4 linked regions of the Homo sapiens genome follow. The protein of the gene in region 4 interacts with the protein of the main gene of each other region in a biochemical or structural test. Each region holds a gene or a part of one and is shown on either strand. Other genes may lie near its edges. The genes, in order: DTX1, MAP4K2, BAALC and MAP3K1.

Region 1 (7,887 bases), on a different chromosome or scaffold from region 4:
CTAAAAGCTCGCAATATCACATATGATTAGCCCAACTACCTAGAGACAGGTTGACAACCATCTCTCAGTTTTAATCCCTTAAATCCAGGGAAAGAACCATTGGCCAAAGCCTACAAATACCTGGACCCCCCAGCCAACTACATCAGTTTCTGAGGGTGGGGCTTGGACATGGGTAATTTGTATGCACTCTGCAGGAGATTCTCACATGAATCCAGGGTGGGACCCAGTGCTCTGGGGTGGGGAGGGCGTTCATCTCACCATCTCGCCCATAGATGCTCAAGCTGCTTTCAACTCCGGCTGTATGTGAATTTCAGAGCAAGACCCTGGGATGAATCTGTGCTCACCTGGAACCAGCCTCTGCCTGGTGATGGGGAGACACTGCTCCCAGGAACCATGACCTGCACACATGGCCACGAGAGCAGTGCCCACCTTAACCTTGGGCCTGCAGACCCTCCTCGCTAAGCAAAGCCGGCTGTGGATGTCACCCTTCTGAGGCTTCTCCAATTCTACTGCCCATTCTCAGCAGGCAGCAAAAGACCTTTCACCACTCGCACCCCACCAGTGTCCTACAGGCCCAAGGAACACTCTGACTTCCAGGGGCCCCATTTCAGTCCCCAGAGACACCCAAACAGTCCTTCTCACTCTGTTTCCTGTTTTCCACTTAAACTTTTTCTCAACTGCTGAAGGGGAGGTCACAGCTGGTCTGCACAGAAGAATGTAGAGGGCTGGAGAGAAGGGCTCAAAAAAGCCTAACTCACTCGGCTCCACAGGCTGGGGACAGGGGTGGCATGTGTCTCCCAGGGCTCATACCCTAATGCACATGCCCCTAATACGGTCTTCAGTGTTACTCATCTTGTTTTGTGTCCCCTTCCAGACTCTCCTGTACCTAGACCAGGGCTGGACATACAGTAGGTACTCAATAAAGTCTAGTTAATTCCAGGCTCTTTCCAACACAAATCAAATCACATCAAATTTTTAGTAATTCCCATGACTCTTAGAATAAAATTGCAAACCCACACTGGGTCTTATAAGGCCCTGCATGGTAGCTCTGCCTCTTCTGGCCCCAGGCTCACCCCTCTTCTTTCTCAGTGGTTACTTGGTCTCCTTTCTGTTGCTTTAACACACCAAGCGCTTTCCCACCTCTGGGCCTTTGCACATCCCTGTTTCCTCTGATTTAATCATTCCCCCTCCTACCCCACTCAGCCACATTAAGACCTATGAATCCTTCAGGGAGTGGCTGAAACATCAACTCCTCTGAAAAGCCCTCCCTGATTCCTTAGACCTGATAAGACCCCTGTTAGATGTCCTCACGATATCCTGTACTTTTCCCTCATAGTCTTTGCAAAAGTTTGGAATTAGACTTTGTGTGATTCTTGATTCATGTCCGACTTCCTCACTAGACTCTGAGACCCAGGAGGGCAGGGACCATGCTGCTGGTGTCAGCTCTCTATCTCAGCACGTAGCCCAGTGCCTGGCACATAGGAGGGCATCTGGTATTTTTTGGATGAATGGATGGATGGATGGATGGATGAATAAGTGGATAAGAGGAAGGAAGGGGCCGGGTGCGGTGACTCATGCCTGTAATCCCAGCACTTCGGGAGGCCAAGGCAGGTGGATCATGAGGTCAGGAGATCAAGACCATCCTGGCCAACATGGTGAAACCCCATCTCTACTAAAAATATAAAAATTAGCTGGGCGTGGTGGCACGTGCCTCTAATTGCAGCTACTTGGGAGGCTGAGGCAGGAGAATCACTTGAACCAGGGAGTCAGAGGTTTCAGTGAGCTGAGATTGCGCCACTGTGCTCCAGCCTGGTGACAGAGCAAGATTCCATCTTAAAAAAATAAAAATAAAAAGAGGAAGGAAGGAAGGAAGGGAGAGATGGAGGAAGGGAAGCAAGGAAGGTGGGAAATTTCATACATGAATGTATAGATGAATGGATGAATAAATGGATAGATGGATTGATGGATGGATGATGGGTGGGTGGGTGTATGGATGAATGGATGATGGATGAGTGGGTGGATGGGTGAATGACTGGATGGATGGGTGGGTGGGTGGGTGGGTGGGTGGATGGATGGGTGGAATGGATGGATGGAGGATGGGTGGATAGATGAATGGATAGACGGGTGGATGGATAAGTGGATGGTGGATGGCAGAACAAAAAAAATGAGTTGGTCTCTTTCTGCCATCTTTCTGAGCTGCTATAATGGTGCATGTGAACGTCCTGGCCAGTGTTCTCAATAGCATCAACATGCTGAGAAGAGAAGCAAATACCAGGTTGTTTTAGGTTGTGTTCCAAAATCATCATCTAGTTTCTAAGTGTGATGATGAAGTTTAGTTTACATCAGTGAATTTGCAATCATCAATAATCACAGAGCTAGAAAAATCACTGTGGACCTCACAGGCAGGTTAAACAAGTGTACAGTGACAAGCCCCAGTTTGATGTGCAACTCAAAGATCTAGAAAAATGGTACCCCTATCCCCTTTGGTTTCATTGTCCTGACAACCTCAGCTGGTATCAGGGATTGCAAGGAAGCAAGACAAAAATACACAGGAGGGAAAATCCTGGGATTGTTTTTCTAGGGATGTAATAAATTCATATGAATAAAATGCCTCAATGGACCAAAAAAAAAAAAACAGTTCATGATTGATTGCTTTTGCTTTTGTCCTATTGACTTCCCCATTGGTATCTGAGCCATCCCTCCCATGAATTGTGGGCTCCTTGGTGGCCAAATTCCTTCCCTCTCCTTGGAATTCTTTTCTCCCCAAGTTCCCTGGGAGCAGAGTGTTGCATTCCCAGATGTTCCAAACCCAGTTGAGAGGGGCCATTAAGGGCCACTCTGCACCAGATCCTCAGCTGGGTGCCATCCAGTAGTCACTCAACAAACACAGAGGCAGCATGGTGCTATGGGAGGTGCAAAAGCATTTGGGACTCAGACCCTAGCTCTGCCACTTACTCCTTGTGGGAACTTGGGTAAGCTACTTAGCCTTTCTGAGCTTCAGGAGGTTTTTTGTTTCCTTGTGTAAAATGAGGACAACATTACCTTCCTTGTGGGGCAGTTATGAAGAGTAGTAAGTATTATTTAAGTGCCTGGCACATAATAGGCACTCAGTAAATGACACCCTTATGTAATGGGGCACCAGCCACACCACACCAAGATGAATATGATGGCTATCTCACTCTAGCAGGGACAGATTTCATTTAAGAGGCTAATTGTGATACAGGGTGTCATGTCAAGGTATGGGCAAAGGAACACAGAGGAAGATGGGGTGAATTCAGGAAAGGCTTCCTGGAGGAGGTGACATTTAATCAGACCTTAAATAGCATTCGACAGGAAGTCCAGAGACACGAGTTCTTCTTTCCAATTTGCTGCTAAATCACCATGCGACCTTGAGCCAATCTCTTCTCCACTGTGGGATCCCCAGATCCTTCTACAACATAAGCTGGTTGAGCACCTGCTCTGAATCCGTTCAGTCACAGTCTCCTGTGAGAAGAATCTGCTGACAGCCAGAGCCCTTCTTCCCAGACATACAAGACACACAATGCCTAGACACACAAGTTTGCCTGTAATGGGAGAGGGGGACTTCATGGACCCCAGAAGGCCATCCAGGGACCCTAGGCTAAAATCCCAGAACTCAGTGATCCTGTGGGAGTATCGTCAGACTTGGCCCTGCCCTATGCAAAGCCTCTCTCTTTAGTCTACAGCAGGTGAAAGCAAGCAGAATCATTGACCCAATCTGAAAAAGCCCATCCAACACTGGGCTGCAGGTCAGAGCAGGGGCCTGGGGAGGGGAGGTCCCTCCAGCTGGCCGGAGAGCCAGAGCTGGATTCTGGGAAAGCACCCCTGAGCAGCCTGCCCCTGACCCTGCCTAGTGTATCCCCATCTGCCCCGGGGAGGCAGGCGTGGGCTGCTCTGGGCAGGCGCCCAAACAGGCCACTGACCCCCGTCAGCCACCCAGGCTGGAGTTCCCGGACGCATCCTTCATCTTCCCCAATCTAAACACCCCCAGGCCCCAGGTGGTCCACCCCCCTCCCAGCCAATGTGTGTCTCAGCCGCATCCAGCTTGCTGGAGGACAGGGGGACTGGCCATCCCGTTAACACTTGAGCCGCTGCCATTTCCAGCCTTCCCTTCCATCCAACCAATGCTCACCCACCATTTATTGAGCACCAGTTGTTTGCAGGTGGCTGTGAATGACATGGCAGAGGGCCTGCCCTTCTCTTCCTCCAGGATCTCACCTCCTGGCCAGGGTCCCCTCCCCTGGTCCCACCCCTCTCACCTGGAGCAGGTGGGTGCTTTGGGGGAAGTGGGCTCAGGGCTGGGAACTGGGTACTGGCAGGAGATTCAGATCGGGGTTGGTGTCTGGGCATCGCTCTAAGCTTTTGTGATCCTGGGCCTGGCTCTTACTCTCTCTGGCTTCAGTCTCCTCATCTGTACTCTTCAGATTCCACGGTTCCAACTGAGTCTGAATCAGGCCTTGTCAGCACCCTCCCACCCCCAGGAATAGTTAGAGGAGGAAAGGAGGCTAGCTCTGAATGCTTCAAGATCTTTCTTTAGACAGTCTCTGGATCTTATTCATTCATTCAAGCATTTATTGAGCACCTATTCAGTGCCAGGCCCTGGACTGGGAGACTGGAAATAAAGATGACAAAGATTCAAGCCGGTGACTCCTAAACATCCCACTCCCTGCCTCACGCTCTGCTTGGGGTCAGAAGGCCCCTTGGGGTCTCGGGAGGGCCTGGCCGAGGATTTGGGGCGCCCCGAGACTCGCGTGTCAGCGCCGGTGGCGCTCAGGGCCGAGATCTGTCTCCTCCCCTTCCTCCTCCTCCGCCCCCTCCCCTCTCCCTCCCGGAGCACGGCCGAGGCCTCCTCCCACCCGCGAGATCCCGGCGGCCGCCAGCCGGCTCCTGCGTCCGTCCGTCGGCCGGGCAGTCTGTCCACGCGCGGAAAGCTCGGCGCGGCGGCCGAGGGGCCTGGGAGGGAACGGGCGCGGAGGCGGGACCGCGGCTCCCTCCCACTCCGGGGGGAGCCCAGGAGGCGGCGGTGCTGGAGCGCGAGCCGGAGCCGGAGCCGGAGACGAAGAGAGGCGGTGAGAACGCGGGTGCTTAGGGACCCCACCCCCGGCTCCCGCTGGGGGCCCGCGAGCGGCTCGGGGACGTCTGGGCTGGGGAAGCGGGGCTGTTACCCCCAGGGCGGGAGGCAGAGACGATCCAGCTCCTGGCTTCGCCCCCTCCGCGACGCGACCCCCGAGGGGCCCTGGGCCGCGCCTGCAGCGCCGCGCATCCCCGTGCTTCCCGGCGCACCCCAGCGCACCCGGCATCCCCCCGGCAGGGCGAGGGCCCCGGGGGAAGGGAAGGCTCCGGGAGCCAAGGAGGGCGCCCCCCAGGCGGAGAGTCTCGGAAAACCGCGCCCCCGGCCCCTGCCTTCCCTCCAGGCCTGCCCCAAGGGAAAGCGGGCGGGGCGACCCCGTACGCCCCCCTTGCTGTCCCCCTTCGGTTCCCCATTGTTCTCAGCCGAATGCTCTCCTGGGAAGGGGGGAGGGGGTGCTGCGCTCTCCTCTTAAAGGGCCCTCTCCCCTCTTGTCTCCTGGCAGGTCGCGAGCACGAGTGGGGTGGGGCGTGCCCACGGGCCCCCGCCCCCCTCGTCCCCCTCGTCCCCCAGCCCAGCTCCGGAGCCGCAGTCCAGGCGCGCCGCCCGAGGGTCCACGCCGCACCCCTCCCCCGTGCGTTCTGCGGCCACCCAGGCCTTCCAGGACACCGTGGAGAGGGAACAAGGGGGCAGGGACGCCCCCTTCGGCAGGAGCCGTCGGAGAAGGGGGCCCAGACCGGAGGGAGGCGAGAAGCCCCACTGAAGCCGGGCGCAGGGTCTGGGACGCAGTTGGGAGTGCAAAGGGCTGGCTGAGAGCCGCAGGAGCAGCAGGCTGTGGCCCAGGCCTCCTGGGTGACAGGCCCTGTCTGGCGGGGAAGAGGGACCAAGAGACAACACGGAAGAGGCTGGACCTCGAACAGGGGCGGCTGCCTCACTCCCTACCTGAGCCAGCCGAGGGGGCCAAGGACTTTAGAGCTGTTTCCTCCGGCATAAGAGAGACACTTGCTTTCCAGGGCAGCACCCTTTATCGGAGAAGGCTCTACAGGGAAGGGGTCTTTGCAGCCTGGATGGCCATCCCACATTCCTTTAACGGAGGTCTCTAGGCCTCAGAGAGAACCCAGAGTTAGAAAGGAGGCCAGACGGTCCTTGCTGTCCCCCTGGGGAGAGAGGAAGTTGCCGCCTGCTGCCAGGCCCAGGAGGAGCTGGGCCTGCAATAGTGGGGGACCTGGCCCCTGAGGCAGTGGCGGCCATGTCACGGCCAGGCCACGGTGGGCTGATGCCTGTGAATGGTCTGGGCTTCCCACCGCAGAACGTGGCCCGGGTGGTGGTGTGGGAGTGGCTGAATGAGCACAGCCGCTGGCGGCCCTACACGGCCACCGTGTGCCACCACATTGAGAACGTGCTGAAGGAGGACGCTCGCGGTTCCGTGGTCCTGGGGCAGGTGGACGCCCAGCTTGTGCCCTACATCATCGACCTGCAGTCCATGCACCAGTTTCGCCAGGACACAGGTGAGCAGACACCCACCCCATGCCACCCGCCCCGCCGAGCCATCACTACCTTGCAGCGTAGGATGCTGAAAATCCCAGTAAATCTGCTGATGCCAAATCCCTTCCCCATCTCCCTGCCTCACCTCCAGAAAAACAGGGCAGTCTAACCTTGTCCAGTTTAAGACTTGGATTCCAATGCAGCCTCTGAGCAAGCTGTAGGGCCTTGAGCAAGTTGCATCATCTCTCTGAGCCTCAGTTTCCTCATCTGCAAAATGGGTAGATCAATATCTCTCACAGCTGAGTGAGGATTAAATAAAATTGTGCTCACTGAGCACAGAACCTAGAACAGCAGTAGCATGGGATTGTAGAATAAGGGCTTTACATGCACTTCCTCATTTGATTTTTCCCAAGAATCACAGGCAGTAAGTCTGTGTATTGTTGTATTATTATGAGTCCCATTTTATAGATGAAGAAACCGAGTCTCCCAGAAGCTGAGTGATTTAAACTCAGAGCTGGGATTTAAACCCAGGCGGTTGAGTTCCAGAACCAAAGTTCTTAACTGGTATCCTATACTGGCTCCAAGTGTTGGTTTGTGGGGTGGAGTCGTGCTGGTGGTAATTAATTGGGGATGGGGGGCGTTGGTGGTGTTGATGGTGGGGTGAGGTGGCAATGATGGAGGAGACAGTGTTAGCGGTTGTGTTGGTGGTGACTCAGTGATAGTATTGATGGTGGTGGGGTCTTGGTGACAATGGAGGGATGGATGATGGTGACGTGGCAGTGTTGGTGGTGATGTCAGTGATAGCGTTAACCATGGGATTCAGTGGTGTTGGTGACATTGATAGTTGTGTTGGTGGTGGTGCTGGAAGTGGTGTGATGGGGTGGTGATGATGGAGAAAATGAGAGAATGATGTTGGTGGCAGTCTTCGTGGCCATGTGGTGTGGCTGGTAGCCCTGTGTGTGGCTGTTACTTAGTGGTATTGGTGATCCTGTTGTGGTTGTAATGATGGTGATGTTGATGGTTGCGTTGGTGGTAATGTGATGGCTGATGATGGAGATAAAATCGATGAGGTCCCACTCTCAGGCCTACTCTCTTTTGTTCTGGAGATTTGTCATCGTTGGGGAGATCTCCCTGAGTCATTGCCCGGTGGTATCTGTGACAAGCTCCATGGGCAGTGGGGACTGGTGGGGTCCTGCCGTGCAGAAGCAGCCTAGAAATCCTTGGCATGTTTGACCCCCCAAGGACCAGCTGATGGGGTTTGGGGAAGTTCCTATGAATCCCTGGATGACAGAACCACACGTAATAACCCCAGGCTG
Region 2 (7,404 bases), on a different chromosome or scaffold from region 4:
TTCCATTGACCTGCACACCGACTCGCTGGAGCTTCTGCAGCTGCAGCAGGTGAGGGCTGAGCCAATGGGGCAGGACTGGGCTAGGCCAGACTTGACTTGCTGTGGGACCCTGGGCAGGGGCACTTTCCCTTCCTGAGCTTCAGCTTCCCCTCCTGGAAAAATGGGTTAGTAATTCCTGGCCTGGCCTTTCCCAGGGCTCTTGGGAGAGTAGAATTGAGATGTGAAATTGCTTTGACTCCATTAAAGGGCTGGTCCCAGAATTTTGGCCCTTCCACATGGTGGGTGGTCCCTGTTGGTTCTGACCCCCACCTCTGCCCGATAGGCTAAGGACCCGTTCTCCTCCCTGTTCCGTGGCTCATAACTCTCTCCTTCGGCTCCTAGAAGCTGCTCTGGCTGCTCTATGACCTGGGACATCTGGAAAGGTCAGTAGAGGGAAGTGGCCAGGCTGCGCCTGGTGAGGCCGGGGGGCTGGGTGGCAGCCTGAATTATGATCCTTTCCTAGGTACCCCATGGCCTTAGGGAACCTGGCAGATCTAGAGGAGCTGGAGCCCACCCCTGGCCGGCCAGACCCACTCACCCTCTACCACAAGGTGGGGGCATCTAAGGAGGGTGCAGAAGGGAGACCCTAACAGTGGCTGAGGCAGGGGCCCTCATCTGGGCAGATGAGAAGAGAACTTTGTGTGTTGGGGGGTATCGCCCATCCAGTCTCACTTTGTGTCAACTGTGTGCAGAATCAGTTCAGTCAGGGCTGTCTGAGGGGTGTCCAGGGTTCCCCAGCCTGGGAGTGGCAGGGGCTGCATTTGTCCCCTCAGCCCTGCCTTTTCTGCCACTGCTTACTGTCCTTCCTGGAGTATAACAGAGGTCAAATGTGGCAGGAGCACTGATGAAGAGGGGGTGTTCACTTGGTGGGTGTAGGTGGGGAGGAGGGCCATTGGGCTGGGCTTGAAAGTCTTTGGTGATGTGTAGAAGAGTGTCTGAGAAAGAGAAGGGCCCTGAGCTCGGAGGGCAGGCCCCACCCCTGCAGTCTGCCCCAGGCCTCAGCCAGCAGTCCTGTAGACCCAGGGAGGAGACCAGGTAGAAGGGCTGGCAGCGAGTGGAGGTGGGAGTGGAGATGGAGAGGACTCCCTGGGATCTTCCTGTGGCCCCTTCTGGGTGTGCCCTGGTGGGGCATTTGTGCCAGCAGGGCAGCTGGGGCTGCCTCCCTGAGGATCCTCTGCCTCACCTCCATCCAGGGCATTGCCTCAGCCAAGACCTACTATCGGGATGAACACATCTACCCCTACATGTACCTGGCTGGCTACCACTGTCGCAACCGCAATGTGCGGGAAGCCCTGCAGGCCTGGGCGGACACGGCCACTGTCATCCAGGAGTGAGGATCCCCCTACTAGGGCCTGCAGCCTGTCCTTTCTTCCCCTCCATCAGTTTCCAACCACCCTCGTCCAGGACTGAGGCCTGGCTCCCACGCCCCATCCCCTTTCCATCCAGTCCCTAGGCAGCAAGGCCACCATTACCCAGGAGGTAGGGACCCTGATTAAGGTGTCACATCTTTCCCTCCCTCCCCTCTCCTCCTAATTTTTTTTTTCTCAGAACAGTCTCAAATCTCCAATGTTTAACCACCATCATCCAGCAGTGGGACTTCCACCCTCGGCCCCATGCCCCCCTCCTCATTCTTGCTTTCTTCCTCTGGGCTGACCCAGACAGCATCATTTTGCAGTGAGGACCCCACCTACTCCCCCAGCCCCTGGGGGCTCCATCCCCCGCCAGGTCCCTGGGGCTACCCCCGATGGTGAGACCCCTTCAGACCCTACAGAGACCCCACTGCTCTCACAGCTACAACTACTGCCGGGAAGACGAGGAGATCTACAAGGAGTTCTTTGAAGTAGCCAATGATGTCATCCCCAACCTGCTGAAGGAGGCAGCCAGCTTGCTGGAGGCGGGCGAGGAGCGGCCGGGGGAGCAAAGCCAGGTGAAAGGCTGGAGCTCCAGCCTGTGTCCAGCCTCCCACCTGGACAGGGCTCCCTTCCACAGGCCATGGGGGCTGCATGTACGGGATTAGGGATGGCAGGAGGAAGGTGGCCCTGAGCAGACAGCTATGTTCCCTTTTGCTATAACTGAGGTCCTGGGCCCACGTTGGACGGGACTGAAGGTATTTTAGAGGTTTCTACCCTGTGCCTTCAGTTTCATGGCCAGACTCCCTCCCTCAGCTGAGGGGTGGAGGTAGGGATGGTACGTCCTGGCTATGGATTGGCTTTATAAAAGGAAAGAGGTTCTAAGAATGTTCCCAACCTATGCTTACCTTTTCTGGAGCCAGGGGTCTTTGCCTAGGTGGGGGGCCTGGCCTGTGCCCTCTGCTAAGGGGTGAGTAAGAGACTGATCTGTGCCCTCCCTTCCCCCTCGTCCAGGGCACCCAGAGCCAAGGTTCCGCCCTCCAGGACCCTGAGTGCTTCGCCCACCTGCTGCGATTCTACGACGGCATCTGCAAATGGGAGGAGGGCAGTCCCACGCCTGTGCTGCATGTGGGCTGGGCCACCTTTCTTGTGCAGTCCCTAGGCCGTTTTGAGGGACAGGTGAGGGACAGCTGCACAGAGGTCTGGGCACTACAGGTGGTGACAGCAGCCACGGGCTTGTCAGACTTTTCTGGCCCAGGGGCAGCATCTGCCCATCCCCTTGGGTGCCGATGGGACTGAGACCCCCTGGGTGGGATGGGATGGCCAGAGCAGGGTCCTGGAGTTCCAGCCACTGGCCGGCAACCTTGCTCTCACCTTGCTCTCCCCACTGGCCCAGGTGCGGCAGAAGGTGCGCATAGTGAGCCGAGAGGCCGAGGCGGCCGAGGCCGAGGAGCCGTGGGGCGAGGAAGCCCGGGAAGGCCGGCGGCGGGGCCCACGGCGGGAGTCCAAGCCAGAGGAGCCCCCGCCGCCCAAGAAGCCAGCACTGGACAAGGGCCTGGGCACCGGCCAGGGTGCAGTGTCAGGACCCCCCCGGAAGCCTCCTGGGACTGTCGCTGGCACAGCCCGAGGCCCTGAAGGTGGCAGCACGGCTCAGGTGCCAGCACCCACAGCATCACCACCGCCGGAGGGTCCAGTGCTCACTTTCCAGAGTGAGAAGATGAAGGGCATGAAGGAGCTGCTGGTGGCCACCAAGATCAACTCGAGCGCCATCAAGCTGCAACTCACGGCACAGTCGCAAGTGCAGATGAAGAAGCAGAAAGTGTCCACCCCTAGTGACTACACTCTGTCTTTCCTCAAGCGGCAGCGCAAAGGCCTCTGAACTACTGGGGACTTCGGACCGCTTGTGGGGACCCAGGCTCCGCCCTTAGTCCCCCAACTCTGAGCCCATGTTCTGCCCCCAGCCCAAAGGGGACAGGCCTCACCTCTACCCAAACCCTAGGTTCCCGGTCCCGAGTACAGTCTGTATCAAACCCACGATTTTCTCCAGCTCAGAACCCAGGGCTCTGCCCCAGTCGTTAGAATATAGGTCTCTTCTCCCAGAATCCCAGCCGGCCAATGGAAACCTCACGCTGGGTCCTAATTACCAGTCTTTAAAGGCCCAGCCCCTAGAAACCCAAGCTCCTCCTCGGAACCGCTCACCTAGAGCCAGACCAACGTTACTCAGGGCTCCTCCCAGCTTGTAGGAGCTGAGGTTTCACCCTTAACCCAAGGAGCACAGGTCCCACCTCCAGCCCGGGAGCCTAGGACCACTCAGCCCCTAGGAGTATATTTCCGCACTTCAGAATTCCATATCTTGCGAATCCAAGCTCCCTGCCCCAAATAACTTCAGTCCTGCTCCAGAATTTGGAAATCCTAGTTTCCTCTCCTTCGTATCCCGAGTCTGGGACACAAAACTCCGCCCCCAGCCTATGAGCATCCTGAGCCCCGCCCTCTTCCTGACGAAACTGGCCCCGGATCAGAGCAGGACCTCCCTTCCGACCCTCTGGGAACCTCCCAGAGGTCCAGCCCATCTCGGAGCATCCCGGAGGAAATCTGCAGAGGGTTAGGAGTGGGTGACAAGAGCCTGATCTCTTCCTGTTTTGTACATAGATTTATTTTTCAGTTCCAAGAAAGATGAATACATTTTGTTAAAAAAAATATAAAGCGCAAGTCCATGTTTATCTGGGAAATTGGGGATGGGGCGGGGAGTGGAGCGCCCCCTCTTCCCTCTGTCTTCTGGCTCCCGGGACTTTGCGCTCCCTACCTGTGGAGCGCGAGCGACAGTGGCGGCGGAAGGACGTAGGCTCCGCCCCGGCCTTGGGGCTTCCCCGCGCCGCCGAGGGCCCGTCCCGCGGGCGCCTCCTCCCGGACTGGCGGTGGGGCATCCCCGGCGCGGCCCCGCCCCCGGGCCTCAGCCCCGCCCCCGCGGCCTCAGAGCCACGGGCGCCCGCCCCGCCCCGCGCCGCCCCGCGCCGGCTCCGCAGCTCGCGCCCGCCCGCCTGCCGGCCCGCCCGGCGCCGGGCCATGGCGCTGCTGCGGGATGTGTCGCTGCAGGACCCGCGGGACCGCTTCGAGCTGCTGCAGCGCGTGGGGGCCGGGACCTATGGCGACGTCTACAAGGTGCGACGGGACGGGCGGGAGAGCCGGGAGGAGGGTGCCAGCCCCGCACCCCGCGGCAGGATCTAGCCCCCGGCCCCGCCCCCCATCCCGCTTCACCCTCCGCCCCTGCAGGCCCGCGACACGGTCACGTCCGAACTGGCCGCCGTGAAGATAGTCAAGCTAGACCCAGGTGAGGGCCCGGGTCGGGCCTCTGCGCCAGAGGAAGGGCAGAGCGCCCGCGGGCGCGGGGTGCGGGCGGAGGGTTGACGTTTCCGAGACCCCTGAGAGGCGTGCCCCGGGAGGTGCTGTCACCTGCACCTGCCTGGCCCGGAGGGAGGCACTCTGTGCCCATTTTGCAGATGGGGGCACTGAGTCAGGGCAACCCCAGCGCGCCTTCCCCATGATGCTTTGTGCTTCCCAGGGGACGACATCAGCTCCCTCCAGCAGGAAATCACCATCCTGCGTGAGTGCCGCCACCCCAATGTGGTGGCCTACATTGGCAGCTACCTCAGGTGAGGCTGCCTTATCCTCCTGGCCCCAGGCAGCCCCCATGTGACCTGCTTTGTGCCCACCCCAGCTCTTTGTCCCTAGGAATGACCGCTTGTGGATCTGCATGGAGTTCTGCGGAGGGGGCTCCCTGCAGGAGATTTACCATGGTGAGGCCAGGGCTCCAGGCCCCAGCAGGCCCCAGCCTTCCCCCACCCCTACCCCACTGGGGTACCAGAGGGGACTCTGGGCCCTGGACTTGGGCTCCTCTCCACTCCTGCCTGGCTGTGTGACCTTGAGAGAAATACTGTCCATCTCTGGGTTCAGTATCCTAGACTAAACTGGGAGGGGACGTGGCCAACACCGCTTTCATTTAACAGTGCCTGCTGCTTTTCCCACACACGGTAGCCTGGGAGGGTGGGCATGACCCCCGGGCCCCCAAGCCAGCCTCTCCCTTTTCCTTTCAGCCACTGGGCCCCTGGAGGAGCGGCAGATTGCCTACGTCTGCCGAGAGGCACTGAAGGTAGCTGGGCCTGTGAGGTGCCCACACCTCTGGTCTCCAGAAGCTGTGGGCCAGGAGCCCAGATGACCAGCAGGGAGGCGGGTGGAGTGCCTCGGGTGGGGCTGGCCCGAGGGGCTGTAGGTCCTGGGGAAAAGGGGCCCCAGCCCTGTTGCCGGAAGCAGTCCATTTCCCTCTTGGCTCAGTCACTTCCTGTTTGGGGAGAGGGGAGGAAGAAGCAGCCTGAGTGGGGGGCCCCAGTCCTGAGAGGGGGTTTGGGGAGGTGGGACAGTGCTGGGTGGCTGCTCTCAGGGACTCCTCTTTGTCGCCAGGGGCTCCACCACCTGCATTCTCAGGGGAAGATCCACAGAGACATCAAGGTAGGCACCTAGCTGGGGGCACTCCTGGGGAGGGAGGAGGAGGCCCTCGGGGGCACCAGATGGGATTGTCTCTCCTCCATTCCCACAGGGAGCCAACCTTCTCCTCACTCTCCAGGGAGATGTCAAACTGGGTCAGTACCCTGGGGACACCATCAGGGTGAGGGCTCTGTGGACCCTCCCCGGCTACCCTGGACTCAAGGGTTGGGTGTCACTGGGCAAGTCACTTTGCCACTTGAGTCTCAGTTTCCCTGCTTAGAAGATGGAACGGTACTCCCTCCCTGCTGGAAAATAGAGGAGGTTGGGTCTGCACGGAGTTGACATGGGACCAGGCACTCCGTCAGGGATAGAGGGTGGTTGACCCCTCTCAGGAGAGGGACCTGGCCTTGCCTAGGGCCTGCGGCAGCTGTGACCAAGCGGGGCCACCTGCCCGTCTGAGCCCTGCCAGGTGCAGCCGAGCCAGAGCCCTGGGCGTGGGAGGGTGAGTGGCAGCCAGAGGGCTGGTGAGAGTGGCTGTTTCTCCCCACAGCTGACTTTGGGGTGTCAGGCGAGCTGACAGCGTCTGTGGCCAAGAGGAGGTCTTTCATTGGGACTCCCTACTGGTGAGGCTGCGCCTGGGGCGGAGGGGTAGGGGCCACAGAGCAGGGCACCCGGCCATCCCATCTGTGACCCCACCTCTAGGATGGCTCCCGAGGTGGCTGCTGTGGAGCGCAAAGGTGGCTACAATGAGCTATGTGACGTCTGGGCCCTGGGCATCACTGCCATTGAGCTGGGCGAGCTGCAGCCCCCTCTGTTCCACCTGCACCCCATGAGGTCAGCCCAACACTTGCCCCTCACCTGACCCTTGATCTGCGGCCTGTGGCCCCTGACCTCGCGCCCTCCACAGGGCCCTGATGCTCATGTCGAAGAGCAGCTTCCAGCCGCCCAAACTGAGAGATAAGACTCGCTGGTAAGGGCCACACCCTGCTGCCGGGACCCCCTTTTCTGTCAGCCCCATAGTGGACAAACAGCCTCTGCCAACTCCCGGGGGGCAACCCCAAGAGCCCTGTCCTTTCTGGGCTACTACAGACCATCTGAGTCAGGGGCCTGGTCCTTCTGTGGGTTGAAGACCCAGCGTGGTCAGGAAAGAAGGGCAGAGGGTTGGTGGAGGAGCCGCTGTGTCGCAAGGCAGCGTTGCTCGGCCAGTGGCCCTTGGCCTCGGCTGGCTCCTTCCTGGGTGGGCCCAGCAGACGCCTCTGGAGGGGTGGTAGGGCAGCTGGCAGGACACCCTGCACGAGGGCTAACCTGGATCTGGCGCTGGGGGGCTCTTGTGCCTTCTAGGACCCAGAATTTCCACCACTTTCTCAAACTGGCCCTGACCAAGAATCCTAAGAAGAGGCCGACAGCAGAGAAGCTCCTGCAGGTGGGAGGCAGGGGGCCGGGAGAGAGGCCCAGTACTCAAAAGCAGGGCCCTGGATCAGGGGCCAACCTGATCACCCCCCTCCCCCACTTTCCAGCACCCGTTCACGACTCAGCA
Region 3 (7,925 bases), on a different chromosome or scaffold from region 4:
AAACCAGAAACTGGGAAACACCCGAAAAAATTTGCTTTGTCCTGTGTTTTAATTTGGGGTATGATAAAGTGCCACAGGACATTAATCCAGGGACTGAGATAGACTCTTAAGTTTGGCAATCAGTGAAAGAACTTGCTGAATCTCTCTAGAATTAACCTAAAGGAGCCAGCCTCTTTTCTCATGAGAACAATTTATTTTAGGGTTAGTGGTGAATTAATTCTACAGTGTTTAATTCCACATATAAACTTCATTTTCTATATAAATGTTTTGTTGTAACATATTCAATTACTTCCTTTTGTTGTTTTTCTGCAACATTCCCTTTTTCACCTTTTCTAACCTCTTAAACCAAATAAAAAACTCACTTATCTTCTTGCTGTTGTAATATTTGCTTTCCTTTCTTGTTTATACTCTGTAATGATGTTTACCCGATCTGTCCACATCACCTGGATTCCAGGTGTACCATTCATGCCCTGGGGAAAGCAGTCATTCTTCAAGGCAACAGATGCAAGAATGAGCTCATGTCAAATGATATTTTCTGATTTTTTTCTCCAGATGTGGGGAACGAAATTGGATCTTGTGCTTTTGGGTGCTAACTTTGAGCCCTCTTCCTTTACATCTAAATGACAATTTGTGGATCAATGAGGATGTGTCAACTAGCCAAGATCGAGGACCTGGAGGGGTGCTCTGTGGAAACTGCTTTAAAATCCTTCAGAGGGTGGGCACGGAGCTCTGGTTCTGGTATGTTCACTGAATCTGTAGCAGTGGGGAAACTTGCTGAGATTTGGCATTCAAGACCAAAGAGATTTACCTAGGATCTGTACCCTGTTGGCCAGAATTATTGCTACTGTTGTTCTTCAATTATGCTACTTTTTCACTTGGAAAGAGATGGAAACTTGTAAGGCAGTGAATCTATCTTTACTCCTTTTCAGATGGCTGATTCTAAAGGCAGGTTTAGGTTCCTGCTAACCCTTCTGTTCTGTCCTGATTGTCCGCCTTACTGAAGGTCTGTTTTCTACAGCTCACAATAGTCGGGTAGAGTCCAGTGATGCCAAGCCACAGAAATGAGACCTTGGAGGGAGAAGCACTACAGGCCTTTGCTTCAGTTTCCATAGAAATGAGCCAGAGGTGGTACCAGTCACAGGGGTTCTTAAAGCCAGAGAGAATTTATTTTGAGAATCCCATCATATAGCAAATACCACTCTGCAGTAGTTTTTACAGGTGTAATTTATTTCATTGCTCTGGATGGCTTTGGCTCAGGCTTTCCAATGCCCTGTTGCAGCATTTCTCCTTAGGAGAATTCTTTTTTTGTTGCTTTCAAACTTGATGGAAAAAGATAACCAATTCATGCCAGTCAAGCTACAGATTCTGAACAGAGGGTTTAAGATAATGTATTACATTTTACATATTTACATTTAATTTATGACATTTATTCCTGAAGGTTTAGGAGAAAATTCAATCCCAACTAAAGAGCTGTAATTAAAAGAGCACGGAGCCAGCAGCCACAGGCCCCCAGCTCTGGCTGAAACTTCAGCTCTGCCAGAGATAACATTTCCTGTGTGACCTTGGGCAATTTTACAGCTTTCTGAGCTACGATTTCCTAGTTGGTAAAATAAAAGGACTGGATTGGCTGCTCTTTAACTTTTTCTGGCTTCTGAATTTCTCTGAATCAATGGTGTTACGTAATGCCAAGAAAGAGATTCCATGAAAAAATCTAACTGCTCTGTCGATGATGATTACTTAGAAATGGGGGTAAAAAAATTTATTTGCAGGAAGGTTGTTAGCAGTAACATCATAACGGAAGGAAAAAGAAAGGAAAGAAAAGAAAAAAACCTACCTATTTACCAAACTTCTGCAGTGTGCTAAGCAAATTCACAAACATTATCTCATGTGAAAAGACATAATAATTTCAGGGATTTCCCTCTTAAGGAAGAGAGATGACATTGTTGCTTGTTGCCCCAAAAGTGTTGTGATAGCAACATTCATGGAGTGTTTCTATGTGCCAGGCACTCTTTGAGGCCCTTTACACATACTGACACAATTTATTATTCCAATTTACAGACGATGCAGTTGAGGCATAAAGAGGTTAAGTAGCTTGCCCAAGACCATCCACTTAAGTAGCAGAGCCAAACTTTAAACTCAGAGAGTCAGGCTCTTGAAATTGCACTGTTAACTGTATCCCCACCTTGTCTTTTGCTATTCATTCATTAGGCAAACATTTGATGAGCACTGACTCTATGAAGGCATTAAGTTAATCCCTTTTGAAGATTCCAAGCATGTCACCATATCTTTGTCTTTAAGAAGCTTAAACTATACACAATAGATGATCAGAAATGTGTGTGAAATGAGTGACCACACTCAACCTTAGCCAGGCAGTACTTGATAACCATCTCCTGTATTCTGGAAATGTTCATAATTCCATTCAAGTAAGTAGACAGGGCCTGGCAAGAGGGGTCCCTGCTCTGGGCTCCTGCCCCAGAGGTCCCACTCTGGTTCTCCAGCCCTGGTCCTCTCTATGGCCAAGGAATCCAGGGATCACAGAATGCACGTACCTGGAGCCTGAGTCTCAGCCCCTTCTAACCTCCCTGTTGGGTAGTTGAGACCTTGCAACTCTCTTCTCCAAACCCACTGAGCCTACTTCCAGGGCTTGTACTGGAAGCAAACCCCATGAGGGCAGACCACATCCCCCAGGCACATGCTCCTCAGCCAGAGGGATGGCCAAGGGCAGCTATTTGTGGGAGGGGAGTATGGACAGACCTTAGACCCATGGGCCCACAAGGACCCGTGTGTAGCAGGACTGAACTGAGGATAGAAAGAGGAGTGGGTGGGTCAATTCCACCCACAATCCCACTGCCATGTTCAGTGCAGAACTCCAAAGACTGAGAGAACTCTACATTAGAACCTGGCCTTTTAAGTTTTTATGAAGATAACTTGTCAAGGTATGAGGACAGCCCATGTTTCAATTAAACTTGCTCACTTGGTTTATAGCTTTTACAATTTAGACATATGGGCATGTGGGTTTCTATTTGGCCCCAGGATACCCCTCCACTTCACCTCACGTTTACTCTGTTTCCTGTGCTCACCAAGCTCTAGCTCTTTCAGTTTCTTTCGTTTTCTAGAACTCCCCCAGGACGGTCTAACTCAGACACTCTTTCTGGTCTGTCTGCTCTTTGGGTGGTGACATCACGAAGTGGCTGGTTATGAAAGGAGCACTGTGCCGTAGAACTGAGGAAAGCACAGGCTCTGCTAGAGATGTTAAGTATTCTCTCTCCCTGAAAGCTGGTTCTTCTGAAATCAAAATATTCAGGGGGGAAGGAAAAGAGGCACAGGGCATCTGAATTCCAAAGGACTAGGGAAGCCACCACTTCCCGGATAACTGCACTCCCTCCACCTTACACCTAAAACAAGGTTGAAGAGTCCTGTCAAGGCCATCTCAAAAGGAGAAGCAAAGCCTGCAGAGGAGGCCAGCCTGAGTCCTGGGGTGCGAACGGGTGCTGCGCTCAGCATGAGGAGGAGGAGACCCTGGCCACAGTTCCATGAATCTTTGCTCCCTTCCACATTATGGATTCTGGTGAGTGCCTGCCAGAGGAATGTCTGACAGCTCTACCCTCAACTGGATCATCTTTAGCCCAAATTACAATAATTTAAGTGAATCAAATTACTATAAAAAGATACTTCATTATTAATTCACTGGACATTTACTGAGGGCCTACTCTGTGCCAGGCAATGCTCTGAACTTGCCCTACCTATTGGATGCTACGTGCTAAATGTTATAGACAATGTACTCTCGTACATTCTATAAATTATATAGGATATAATGAGTACTATATTCTCTATGCTTTACATGCTATATTAAACATCACACCCTATAGTCTACATACAATGGATAATATACAAAATATATTATATATGTATTATGTCTACTAGAACAGTCTTTTGCCACAATAGGAATTTAGTAAATATACATTGAATGAATGAATGAATGAATATGATACTTAATACCATATTCTAGCAGAGCTTGGTCATTGAAGAGTTATTCTTCCAAACCCTTCCCTTTCCTACCCCCCTCTTGAAGGCTAAGAAGATTTTCATCTTTCACCACCTGTTCTGGATTCTTGGAACAGGTAAATTCATTGGCCTACGCAAGTCTGAGCTCTAGGTCTGAACCCGCATGGACCTGAGGGTGCACCGAGAAAAGAAAGGCTGACAACTGGATCCCGGGAATGTCAAGGCCACCCTGGGCTTGAAGGGACCGGCCATGCCTCCAAGCCTTGCCCAGAGAGGGGGTTCAGGATGCTGCGTGGTTCCAGGTGATCTATTGCTTTCTCGAGTTTAAAGTTCAGAGGATCATGAAGTACCACAGCTGGAAGGGGTGTAAGTGACACTGCCTAGCCTAACTCTCTTAAAAATCATAGCCCTACTCCTGCCTCCCCAAATCAGATACGACAGGCATAGGCTCTGACTGTTCCTTAAGTCTTAGTGGCAATACTCCCTGACCAGTTTTGCGGGGTTGCTCCCAGTTCCATTGCTTTTGTAACAGGTGGCCAGAAAGCCTGGGGTCCCGTGATAAGAGTTTCAGTTCTTTCCAGGATGGATGGAAAGAAGGAAGGAAGGATGGATGGATGGATGAATGAATGAGCGGGTGAGCGGATGGATGGATGGATGGATGGATGGATGGATAGATGGGCCAGAGACTGGGAACGGTAATGCCGGCCAGACGGGTCCGAGCGCCTCGGGAGCCCCAGCCCTCCTCCGGCTGCGGGGCCGCTGCTCCTGCTCCCGGGCCGTCACGGAGCCCTGAGGGAGGGGGCGGGCGAGCGGGGGCCTTGGGGCGGCCAGGGCGCTGGGAGGGAGGACTGGGCGGTGGGGACCGGAGGGGAGGGAGGGCCTTGGAGGCGGAGAGGAGGGACGGGCTGGGAGAGGGCCCGGACTAGGGGCGGCGGGCACCGCAGGAGCTCCGCGCGGCTGCAGCGCGGGCGGGAGCGGGGACGCGATGTCGCCGCCGCCGCCTCCTTGCGGGCCGGGGCTGCGCCTCCGGGGCTGAGCCGCCGCCAGAGCCGACAGCCGAGCAGCCGCTGGGCGCTCCCGCGGCGCAGGAGGATGGGCTGCGGCGGGAGCCGGGCGGATGCCATCGAGCCCCGCTACTACGAGAGCTGGACCCGGGAGACAGAATCCACCTGGCTCACCTACACCGACTCGGACGCGCCGCCCAGCGCCGCCGCCCCGGACAGCGGCCCCGAAGCGGGCGGCCTGCACTCGGGTAAGTGGCCGGGCCCCTGCAGACCCTCGCCCGCCCGCTACCCCGGGCGCCTTGGCCCGGGCACTGAGAGAGGAGCCGGTTCCCTGAGGAATTGATGGCGCGGCGGGGGTGGCTGGGAGGAAGCAGAGGCAGGACCTGCCCACTGATCAGTGGACAGATGCAAGCCCAGGGAGTGGGGTCGACCAGAGCCCCTTACCGAAGGCTGCGCCGATGCCCCAGCTTCCAGCAGCCCAATGCTCTTTGGCCTTGTCCAAAGCTTGCTCGCTGGTCGGGAGACCGGTGGGTGGGAGGACAGCCCACCTCCTCCGCACACATATCCCTCAGCCACCCACCCCCTGATCCGCCCAGGGCCGCCTCCGCCCCGCTTTGGCCCATCTGCCATCCCCTGGCCACCTGCGTACCCAGCCGGGTGACTTCTCATCCATTGGCCACCTGGTGCCCCTCTCTCCCTGGATTTATACACAAGGCGCCTGCCTGGGATCGCCTGGGTGGAGTCTTTCTTGTCGCTTCCCCTTTTCTCCCTCTAGGAAATGAGCCCACTCGCGGGCTTCAAAGACCAGAATCCCAGTTTAGGTCAAAATAAATGCACCCCGCCCCATCGCTAGTTCTGCACTTTAGGTTACTTTTGGAGCAGTTGTTCCATAGCAAAGGACTTCTCTCCCTACCCTATGGTGTCCCAATGCTTTGCAGGAGGCAGGGCACACATGTGGATTTTGACTATAAATTAAATACTCTTGCCTAGGTCATTCCTCATCCAGCAGAAATCTGATAAAAGGAGATGCAAAGAATTGTCTGGTCAGGTCATAAGTCAGGATTTTATTTTATTTTATTTTTTTATTTTTTAGCAGAACAAGTAATTATAGCGCAGAGATGCAAACTGTTGCCACAGACTGACCTTTAATCATAAACATATTGGTGACATTAAAAGGAAAAAATCTCACTACTTATTACATGGATGTTGTCCAAAGCAAGGTCAATATTTGGATAAAAATGTTTTAAGTGTTTCTTCACCCACTGATATTATTGGCATTTTTGAATAATGAAATCTAAAATGGAAAATAGGGTTAATTTGAAGCATAATGTATAACATATGGAAGAGGAAGGAAATGCGAATTACTTTTACAAGGTTAAGAATCTTAAATCCATGCCTACTAAATAGAGCTGTCACTTTAATCAAGAATAGGTTTCTCCATTTTTAAGGACCAAAGCTGGCTCCTTTTCCACATTAACTTTGTGACTTGGTTTTATTTTAAAATTGAGGACTGTCTGTGAAAGCTGTACAATACATTACACTATATTTGTCTCCAGTTTTTCTGACTCACAGTGGCAATCAGAATGGTTATTTTGTATTGCCAATGCTTTTAGCAAGTCACCAAATGGTGTGTTGGCTGAATTCAGTGTCAGCATGAGGATAGATATGAGCCTTTTAGAGGGACCTGGTAAATGTTAGATGTGACAGGGTTTCCCAAGGAGGTATGGTACTTCTCAGCAGAGAGTCAAAGGCCAGAGATGTACTCCGAAGAAATAAGGGTGAAAAGATCTAGCATGAAAAAAATAATAATAAAAAACAACCAAAACCCCGTAAGTACAGCTTTAAGAAATGGTTGCCGTGGTGACTGGGAGTATATGGTGTGTGTGTGTATGTGCGTATATGCATATGTATGGGTATGAAAGAGTTATTATGGGATGGCTCTATATGTACATACATGTTCCTCACAACTTTCCTGACACTCCTTGATTTATTACTCTGCCATACTAATTCATATCCCATCCATCATGAGATCTGGTCACTGCAACAGGTGGGGCCTGGGACAGACACACTCATTCATGGTACCCTGCCAAACATGGGCCAGCCCTGCCAGAGAGGTGGTCCTGAAGGCCTGCATCCTCCAGAGGAGAAGCTCCACTTCAGCCCCAGGACAGCACCCTGAAATTGGCAAGACGCTTGTATGGGCAGGGTCATTTTAATTCCCTGGGAATTTCTGTTAGCCTCAGGGGAGAGGGATATTTCTGAAGACCAAGATTAAATCAAGGCCTTCTTTGGGGGTGTACTGGCATTCCCTAGGGCCTTTGGGAATGGCTTGACTTCTGTGGGTTTTTCAGACTGGGAGCTGGTCATCTTTAGTCAGAATGGGTCATCCGTGAAAGCTACAGATCTCCTGGGTTTCAGCCACCCTGGGAGACTGGCCAGGATTCTGTATTCCTTTCATCTTCTCTGCCCCCTCACTTCCACCTCACCCACCCCCTGCCAGTGCTTTACTCATGATTTTACTCCCAAGCTGCTGGGGGACACCTAACAGCCCCCAGTGGCTGCGTTGTGATAGGAGGCCAGAATGCCACTTTTTCCTGTTTACAGAAGTTGTTTTCTGATGGGAGAGGTGGGTAGGAGTAAATGAAAGAGCCAGTAGATTCAGGAGAGTCCAGACTGTGAAATCAACAAAAATGGCTTCACTACTAGAATTCTAGAGCTGGAGAAGGTCTCTGGAAGTCAGCCACGTGAGTCAAATGAGACTCTCAGGGGAATCATCCCCATCTGAACACTCCTTCAACCACTCACAGACTTTACCCTCAGCTCCCAAGAATCCCTTCTTTCTGGGACCTTAGTGATTCTCCTTTGGTGTCAAACTGAAGCCACCTTTTCTCCTGGCTACTTCAGGACTTTTGAGGG
Region 4 (7,018 bases):
GGTAAAAACCATACTTTGAATTTTGATTTTTGTCTGAGCTAGCAATATGTGCTATGATACACTGGTGATGCTAGGCAGTGGCAGCGAGTCACAGCTCCCAGTCAGCCACACAATCACGAGAGTGAACAACCAATACTCTATAGTGGACTGTGTTGTCAGATGATTTTGCGGAACAGTAGGCTAATGTAGGTATTATAAGCACATTCAAGGTAGGCCAGACTAAGCTATAATGTTTGGCAGGTTAGGTGTATTAACTGCATTTTCAACTTAAAAAAATATCATCAACTTAAAAGGGGTTTATCACGACATAACCTCAGCGTAAGTTGAAGAGCATCTGTGTATGTGTGTATTTCCAGGAGTTGATATTGTCAATGGTGTTGTCAATGTTAGTGACATACATAGTCACTTCTTGTTATTTGAGGTAGTTATGCTCTGTTAAGTTGCTACAAATATTGAATTAGCAAATACTAAAACACTGCTTCTAGAAGAAATATGTAGTGTGTTTATATGTATATGTATGTGTGTATATATATCCATCCATCACTTTAAAAACGTGAAATTCATGCATTTTACATAATTCAAAAATCTTAAAATCTAATTTACCATTTTCTTTTGTTCGTTTGTTTTTTGTTTTTGTTTTTGAGACAGAGTCTCGCTGCAGTGCCCAGGCTGGAGTGCAGTGGCACGATCTCAGCTCACTATAGCCTCCGCTTCCCAGGTTCAGGCAGTTCTCCTGCCTCAGCCTCCCAGGTAGCTGAGACTACAGGCACGCGCCACCATGCCCAGCTAATTTTTGTATTTTTAGTAGAGATGGAGTTTCACCATATTGGCCAGGCTGGTCTCGAACTCCTGACCTCAAGCCCACCTCAGCCTCCCAAAGTACTGGGATTACAGGCGTGAGCCACCACTCCTGGCCTAATTTACTATTTTGTATATTTTAAAAATTCACACCCAAGTCAGTTCAGTCCTGTCTGCCTTTCCTACTTTTTTATAACTCACAAATCCATTCTCTCCTTTTCCACCATAGAATAAGTAATGGTTGATATTCTTAGCTTTTCAGTAGATGTGATGGTTGAAATCATGGGCTTTGGAGTCACACTGACCTAGTTTTAAACCCTGGCTCTACCCCTTAATGGCCATGTAATCATAGGAAAATTATTTTTTGTGTCTACCCTCCATTTTCTCACATGTAAAATTGGTGCAAGAACCCCATGAAGCATGTACTTCGTGGGATTACTATGAAGATAAACAAAATTATACCTAGGCCTTAGTCAAGCACTCAGCCCACACAGTCAGCTCCACCTGCCATAACCTCCTCCAGTGCTCCCCACACTTATTATATAACCTCCTCAGTCACCTCTCTGACAATACCTGTTTTGTATTATCACCTCATTTCCTCTATTCTTTCAGACGTCCCATGTCCGTTCTCTACGTGGTTCAAATTCTTATTCTCTTTAAGGCCCCCATTTTGTGCTTCTCCTGCTTGGGCACCCCCTTTTTACTCATTCCAGATTCTCATAGCATTTTAGTACATACTTGTTTCTGACACTTTGTTTCTTGTTTGCTAGTTATGTTCCTATCTTGCTGCCTCTTTCAAACTAATTCTCCTTGAGGTCCATTCATGTCTGATTCATTTTCTTCTTCCCAGAGTCTTATACAGAAGTTGCTCAATAAATACTCATGGCTAGGATCAATTTGAAAGTTTGATGTTATTTTAAGAGTTTTGATGAGACCCTGGAAACAATTGTAAATAATTTTCAAATTGGCACAGTTCATATTTTAACAGATTTCATTGCATTCTCCTTCCTAGGTAGAGTTTAAAGAGAATTGTACTGTAACATTTTCAGTTTCCTTAATTTGGAGTAAATACTTTGAGGTTTTTGGAAGCACCCCAAAGCTTTCTCAAACACTTCCATACCCTGTTTATGGTAGTATAAATTGCCATAGCACGTTTTTTTAGAGAGTGATTTGGCAATATCTGCCAGAATTTTTAATGCACTTATTCTTTGACTCAGCTATGCCCATTGTTAGGAATTTACTCAAGATTACCTCTAGAAGTACCAAGTGCCAAGTTCAGGATTATTCACTCTACTCAAGAAAGTAATTAAATTATCCACACTATACAGAAATTAAACGAGTATGAAGCTGTTGGTGTTGATTTACAAAGTGCTACAAGATACATTAATAAGTGAAAAGAGCAAGGTATATAAAGTGATCCTGGCCAAGCACAGTGGCTCATGCCTGTAATCCCAGCACTTTGGGAGGCTGAGGCAAGAACAAAACTTGAACCCAGGAGTTGGAGAGCAGCCTGGGCATAGCGAGACCCCATCTCTACCAAAAAAAAAAAAAAATTAGCTGGGCATAGTGAGACGCACCTGTGCTCCAGGGTACTCAGGAGGTTGAGGTGGGAGGATCGCTTGAGCCCAGGAGGTCAAAGCTGCAGTGAGCCATGTTCATATCACTGCACTTCAGCCTGGGTGACAGTGAGAGCGAGACCCTGTCTCTAAATTAAGTTTTCTCTTTTGTAGACATTTTAGAAAATCTTAAGTCTGTGAATATATTGGCCTTTTTTCCTCCACAAAACACACACAGACACACACACACCCCCCCCCCCCACACACACACACACAAATCATCAGTAAGTTACATTTGGGGAAAAGAAGGAAGAGGGACTTTTTTTGTTTTGTATTTTTCCTTTTTGTGGTGTGTAAGATGTGTATATATCAGCTGAGTATATCATGATACAGGATCACAGACCTTAGAGGATTTTTCTTTATATTACTTTGCATTTTTTAACCCAAAGCATTTATGAAATTACTGGGGTAGGGAAAAGAGAGTTTTCTTGTGATTAGGAGTGGATAGGTGAGTTTAAAGTATTCAGACTTGATATTAGCCCTTTGTCAGATGAGTAGATTGCAAAAATTTTCTCCCATTCTGTAGGTTGCCTGTTCACTCTGATGGTAGTTTCTTTTGCTCTGCAGAAGCGCTTTAGTTTAATTAGATCCCATTTGTCAATTTTGGCTTTTGTTGCCATTGCTTTTGGTGTTTTAGACATGAAGTCCTTGCCCATGCCTATGTCCTGAATGGTATTGCCTAGGTTTTCTTCTAGGGTTTTTATGGTTTTAGGTCTAACATTTAAGTCTTTAATCCATCTTGAATTTTTTTATAAGGTGTAAGGAAGGGATCCAGTTTCAGCTTTCTACATATGGCTAGCCAGTTTTCCCAGAACCATTTCTTAAATAGGGAATCATTTCCCCATTTCTTGTTTTTGTCAGGTTTGTCAAAGATCAGATGGTTGTAGATGTGTGGGATTATTTCTGAGGGCCCTATTCTGTTCCATTGGTCTATATCTCTGTTTTGGCACCAGTACCATGCTGTTTTGGTTACTGTAGCCTTGTAGTATAGTTTGAAGTCAGGTAGCATGATGCCTCCAGCTTTGTTCTTTTGGCTTAGGATTGACTTGGCAATGTGGGCTCTTTTTTGGTTCCATATGAACTTAAGTAGTTTTTTCCAATTCTGTGAAGAAAGTCATTGGTAGCTTGATGGGGACGGCATTGAATCTATGAATTACCTTGGGCAGTATGGCCATTTTCACGATATCGATTCTTCCTATCCATGAGCATGGAATGTTCTTCCATTTGTTTGTGTCCTCTTTTATTTCATTGAGCACTGGTTTGTAGTTCTTGAAGAGGTCCTTCACATCCCTTGTAAGTTGGATTCCTAGGTATTTTATTCTCTTTGAAGCAATTGTGAATGGGAGTTCACTCATGATTTGGCTGTTTGTCTGTTATTGGTGTATAAGAATGCTTGTGATTTTTGCACATTGATTTTGTATCCTGAGACTTTGCTGAAGTTGCTTATCAGCTTAATGAAACTGAAGAATGCTAAAGACAAGAAGGAACCAAAGAGAAAAGACAAATTACAAGAAAAAAAATTGATAACAATTATATGGATAACAGAATACAGCAGCAACAAGAGAATTCAAAAGACAAATTGTACCTTCTAGTGATTGAAATAAAATAACAGTTAACCTAGGATTTCATAGCTAGCTAAATGATCATCAAAAAATAAGAATGAAATAGAGATATTTTCAGACACATGAGAATTGTGGAAGTTTACCTTCAGCAGACACTCACTGAAAAAAATTATTTTTAGGAATGCATTTCAAGAAGAAGAAAATTGATACCACAAATAGGGAGATATGCAAGAAAGACACTATCTCTGCCTGGAGTCAGCTCTGATTCATAATGGGTGCTCAAAAATTGTTAGAAAACTAATACTTTTTTTTATATATGACTTGAAATTAAAATATGGTTATTGCAGCACAAATTTTAGAATGTAAAGAGTGTATCACAATTTAAAAATAATTATCAGATTTTGAATTTTTTTAGAAAAACTACAAATAAGACCAAATAAAATTTCTTTTTTTTTAAAAAAAAAGTATTCAGACTTACAATTTGTTTATAAAAAAGTTATTCTTCATAGTGTATTTGATACTAAGAATCAGAATTTGTCCAACACGGAAGGAAAAAAACAATGCAGTTGTGTTTTCTATGTATTAAATTGACTCTTCAGTTTTAGTCTTTCTTAATCTAAATAGCTCTGTATGCTGAAGAAATAGAAAACGTGCAGTAAGAACAAACCATCTCGGAGATTGAATATGAGGACAGCAGAATTCATTTGAGTGAATACTTTATCTACCTGAACATTTTGATGTACTTAGCCTTGTTGATGTAAATAATAAGGAATAGGATATATTTGATCAAATCCTAAAATCCTAAAATTTGAAAGATTGTTAGAGAAAACCTCCCATCCAGTGGATGAATTTTTTCATAGACTTTTTGATAGCAGAAAATCCTCCCACTTCTGCTTCAGTTCCTCTCTGTTCAGGATGTAAATGTAAGGGTTATGAGGTCTATGCACATGTGTTTCTGTATCAGAAGTTACAGTTGTGCAAAGCTTCAACACTGGCTTTTTCTCCACAGATTGCTAGTGCAACTACTGCTCCATCGATCCCTTCACATTTGTCTCCTGGTTTACGAGATGTGGCTCTTCGTTGTTTAGAACTTCAACCTCAGGACAGACCTCCATCAAGAGAGCTACTGAAGCATCCAGTCTTTCGTACTACATGGTAGCCAATTATGCAGATCAACTACAGTAGAAACAGGATGCTCAACAAGAGAAAAAAAACTTGTGGGGAACCACATTGATATTCTACTGGCCATGATGCCACTGAACAGCTATGAACGAGGCCAGTGGGGAACCCTTACCTAAGTATGTGATTGACAAATCATGATCTGTACCTAAGCTCAGTATGCAAAAGCCCAAACTAGTGCAGAAACTGTAAACTGTGCCTTTCAAAGAACTGGCCCTAGGTGAACAGGAAAACAATGAAGTTTGCATGACTAAATTGCAGAAGCATAATTTTATTTTTTTGGAGCACTTTTTCAGCAATATTAGCGGCTGAGGGGCTCAGGATCTATTTTAATATTTCAATTATTCTTCCATTTCATATAGTGATCACAAGCAGGGGGTTCTGCAATTCCGTTCAAATTTTTTGTCACTGGCTATAAAATCAGTATCTGCCTCTTTTAGGTCAGAGTATGCTATGAGTAGCAATACATACATATATTTTTAAAAGTTGATACTTCTTTATGACCCACAGTTGACCTTTATTTTCTTAAATACCAGGGCAGTTGTGGCTCATTGTGCATTTTACTGTTGGCCCATTCATTTCGTTTTTGGAAATTATGGTTTTGTATTTTCATGTTTATTTACATTCATTTTTGTTTATTCAGGGAAAGCTGATCTTTTTTTCAAACCAGAAAAAAAAAATGAACTAGATATGAAGTAGAGTTCATTAAATATCTTGCTATTGTCAGAGTTTTTAAAATATAGACTTAATTTTGTTTTTTTAAATTGGAATACAATAAAGTACTACCTACATTTGAGTCAGTCACCACTCTTATTGTGCAGGTTAAGTACAAGTTAACTAAAAATAAACTGTCCTCTCTGGTGCAACTCACAACCAAGATCAAGATTACCTTAAAATTTATTTGAATTTTTTAGATGTTTTGGTTGTCAAACTGTAGGAAACTTCACAACATTTAAGTCTTACTCTGTATGTAACAATCCATCATTCACCTTCACTACTGGTAGTAACATAGAGCTGCCATTTTCCTTTTACCATGCATCATCTCTTTACAGTAGGCCTGGCAGATCATTTTTTAAAAAGATTATTCAACTACCAATCAGTAATGTTTTTAAACAGTACATTTGCTTTGAACTTGGAAAATGTGTTCAGAAAGAAAAATGGAATTGAATTTCATTTATACACTAATTCCTTGGATTTTGCACAGTTACCTAACGGTTTTAGTCTGGAGTTAAATTCAGATGCATGGAATCCTGAAGGAAAATGGTAGCTTTTTAATCTTTTTGTGTGTGTGTGAGTCTTTTAAATCAAGTACTGATTAACTATTAAGTACAACTTTGAGATTTTAGTTTTAACTCTTCAGAAGCCAGTGTGAAATAGAATTGGTTATTCTCAAAGACTCAGGATAAACTAAATAAGCTATATATAGAGTACATTTAAAATGTACAACACAAATTGGAAATAAAATAAGTTACAAGATAAGTTTACAGGGATATATTGCTTACAATTTTTAAAAGGCAGTTTGTTTTTTATGTGAATATGTTTCTTAGTGAAATTTTACATTCCTTTGTTTTGGAAGATTGGCGATATTTGAAGAGTTAAAAATAGTACAGAAATGTGAAGTTTGGTATCTCTAAATGTGTTGTACTTGACTTTCTTTTTTATTTTGTTTTTTTTTTTTTTTGACTACTTAGAATTTTCACAATTCTAATAAGATTGTTTCCAAGTCTCTCATGTGCAAGCTTTAAAGGATGCACTCTTGCCATTTTATGTACTGGAAGATCATTGGTCAGATGAATACTGTGTCTGACAAAAATGTAAACTGTATAAACTGAGGAACCTCAGCTAATCAGTATTACTTTGTAG

What was found.
Region 1: the proteins of MAP3K1 (region 4) and DTX1 form a complex in vitro, tested with the Homo sapiens proteins (one study listed by BioGRID).
Region 2: the proteins of MAP3K1 (region 4) and MAP4K2 form a complex in vitro, tested with the Homo sapiens proteins (one study listed by BioGRID).
Region 3: the proteins of MAP3K1 (region 4) and BAALC form a complex in vitro, tested with the Homo sapiens proteins (one study listed by BioGRID).

What each region holds. Positions count from the first base shown.
Region 1 is NC_000012.12:113,051,858-113,059,744, forward strand, and holds the start of DTX1 (E3 ubiquitin-protein ligase DTX1), read left to right. Parts: upstream 1-4,872; 5' UTR 4,873-5,087; intron 5,088-5,591; 5' UTR 5,592-6,335; coding exon 6,336-6,594; intron 6,595-7,887. UniProt on the Homo sapiens protein: Functions as a ubiquitin ligase protein in vivo, mediating ubiquitination and promoting degradation of MEKK1, suggesting that it may regulate the Notch pathway via some ubiquitin ligase activity.
Region 2 is NC_000011.10:64,800,197-64,807,600, reverse strand, and holds the start of MAP4K2 (mitogen-activated protein kinase kinase kinase kinase 2), read left to right. Parts: upstream 1-4,386; 5' UTR 4,387-4,451; coding exon 4,452-4,547; intron 4,548-4,658; coding exon 4,659-4,716; intron 4,717-4,947; coding exon 4,948-5,038; intron 5,039-5,117; coding exon 5,118-5,182; intron 5,183-5,479; coding exon 5,480-5,535; intron 5,536-5,843; coding exon 5,844-5,891; intron 5,892-5,979; coding exon 5,980-6,022; intron 6,023-6,417; coding exon 6,418-6,490; intron 6,491-6,569; coding exon 6,570-6,701; intron 6,702-6,774; coding exon 6,775-6,837; intron 6,838-7,208; coding exon 7,209-7,290; intron 7,291-7,384; coding exon 7,385-7,404. Other genes in the region: MEN1 (menin), read left to right, coding at 1-49, 382-422, 503-590, 1,233-1,369, 1,588-1,713, 1,831-1,966, 2,403-2,567, 2,785-3,267. UniProt on the Homo sapiens protein: Serine/threonine-protein kinase which acts as an essential component of the MAP kinase signal transduction pathway.
Region 3 is NC_000008.11:103,135,801-103,143,725, forward strand, and holds the start of BAALC (brain and acute leukemia cytoplasmic protein), read left to right. Parts: upstream 1-4,924; 5' UTR 4,925-5,097; coding exon 5,098-5,257; intron 5,258-5,453; exon of another isoform or gene 5,454-5,542; intron 5,543-7,925. UniProt on the Homo sapiens protein: May play a synaptic role at the postsynaptic lipid rafts possibly through interaction with CAMK2A.
Region 4 is NC_000005.10:56,888,546-56,895,563, forward strand, and holds part of MAP3K1 (mitogen-activated protein kinase kinase kinase 1), read left to right. Parts: intron 1-4,985; coding exon 4,986-5,135; 3' UTR 5,136-7,018. UniProt on the Homo sapiens protein: Component of a protein kinase signal transduction cascade. Activates the ERK and JNK kinase pathways by phosphorylation of MAP2K1 and MAP2K4. May phosphorylate the MAPK8/JNK1 kinase.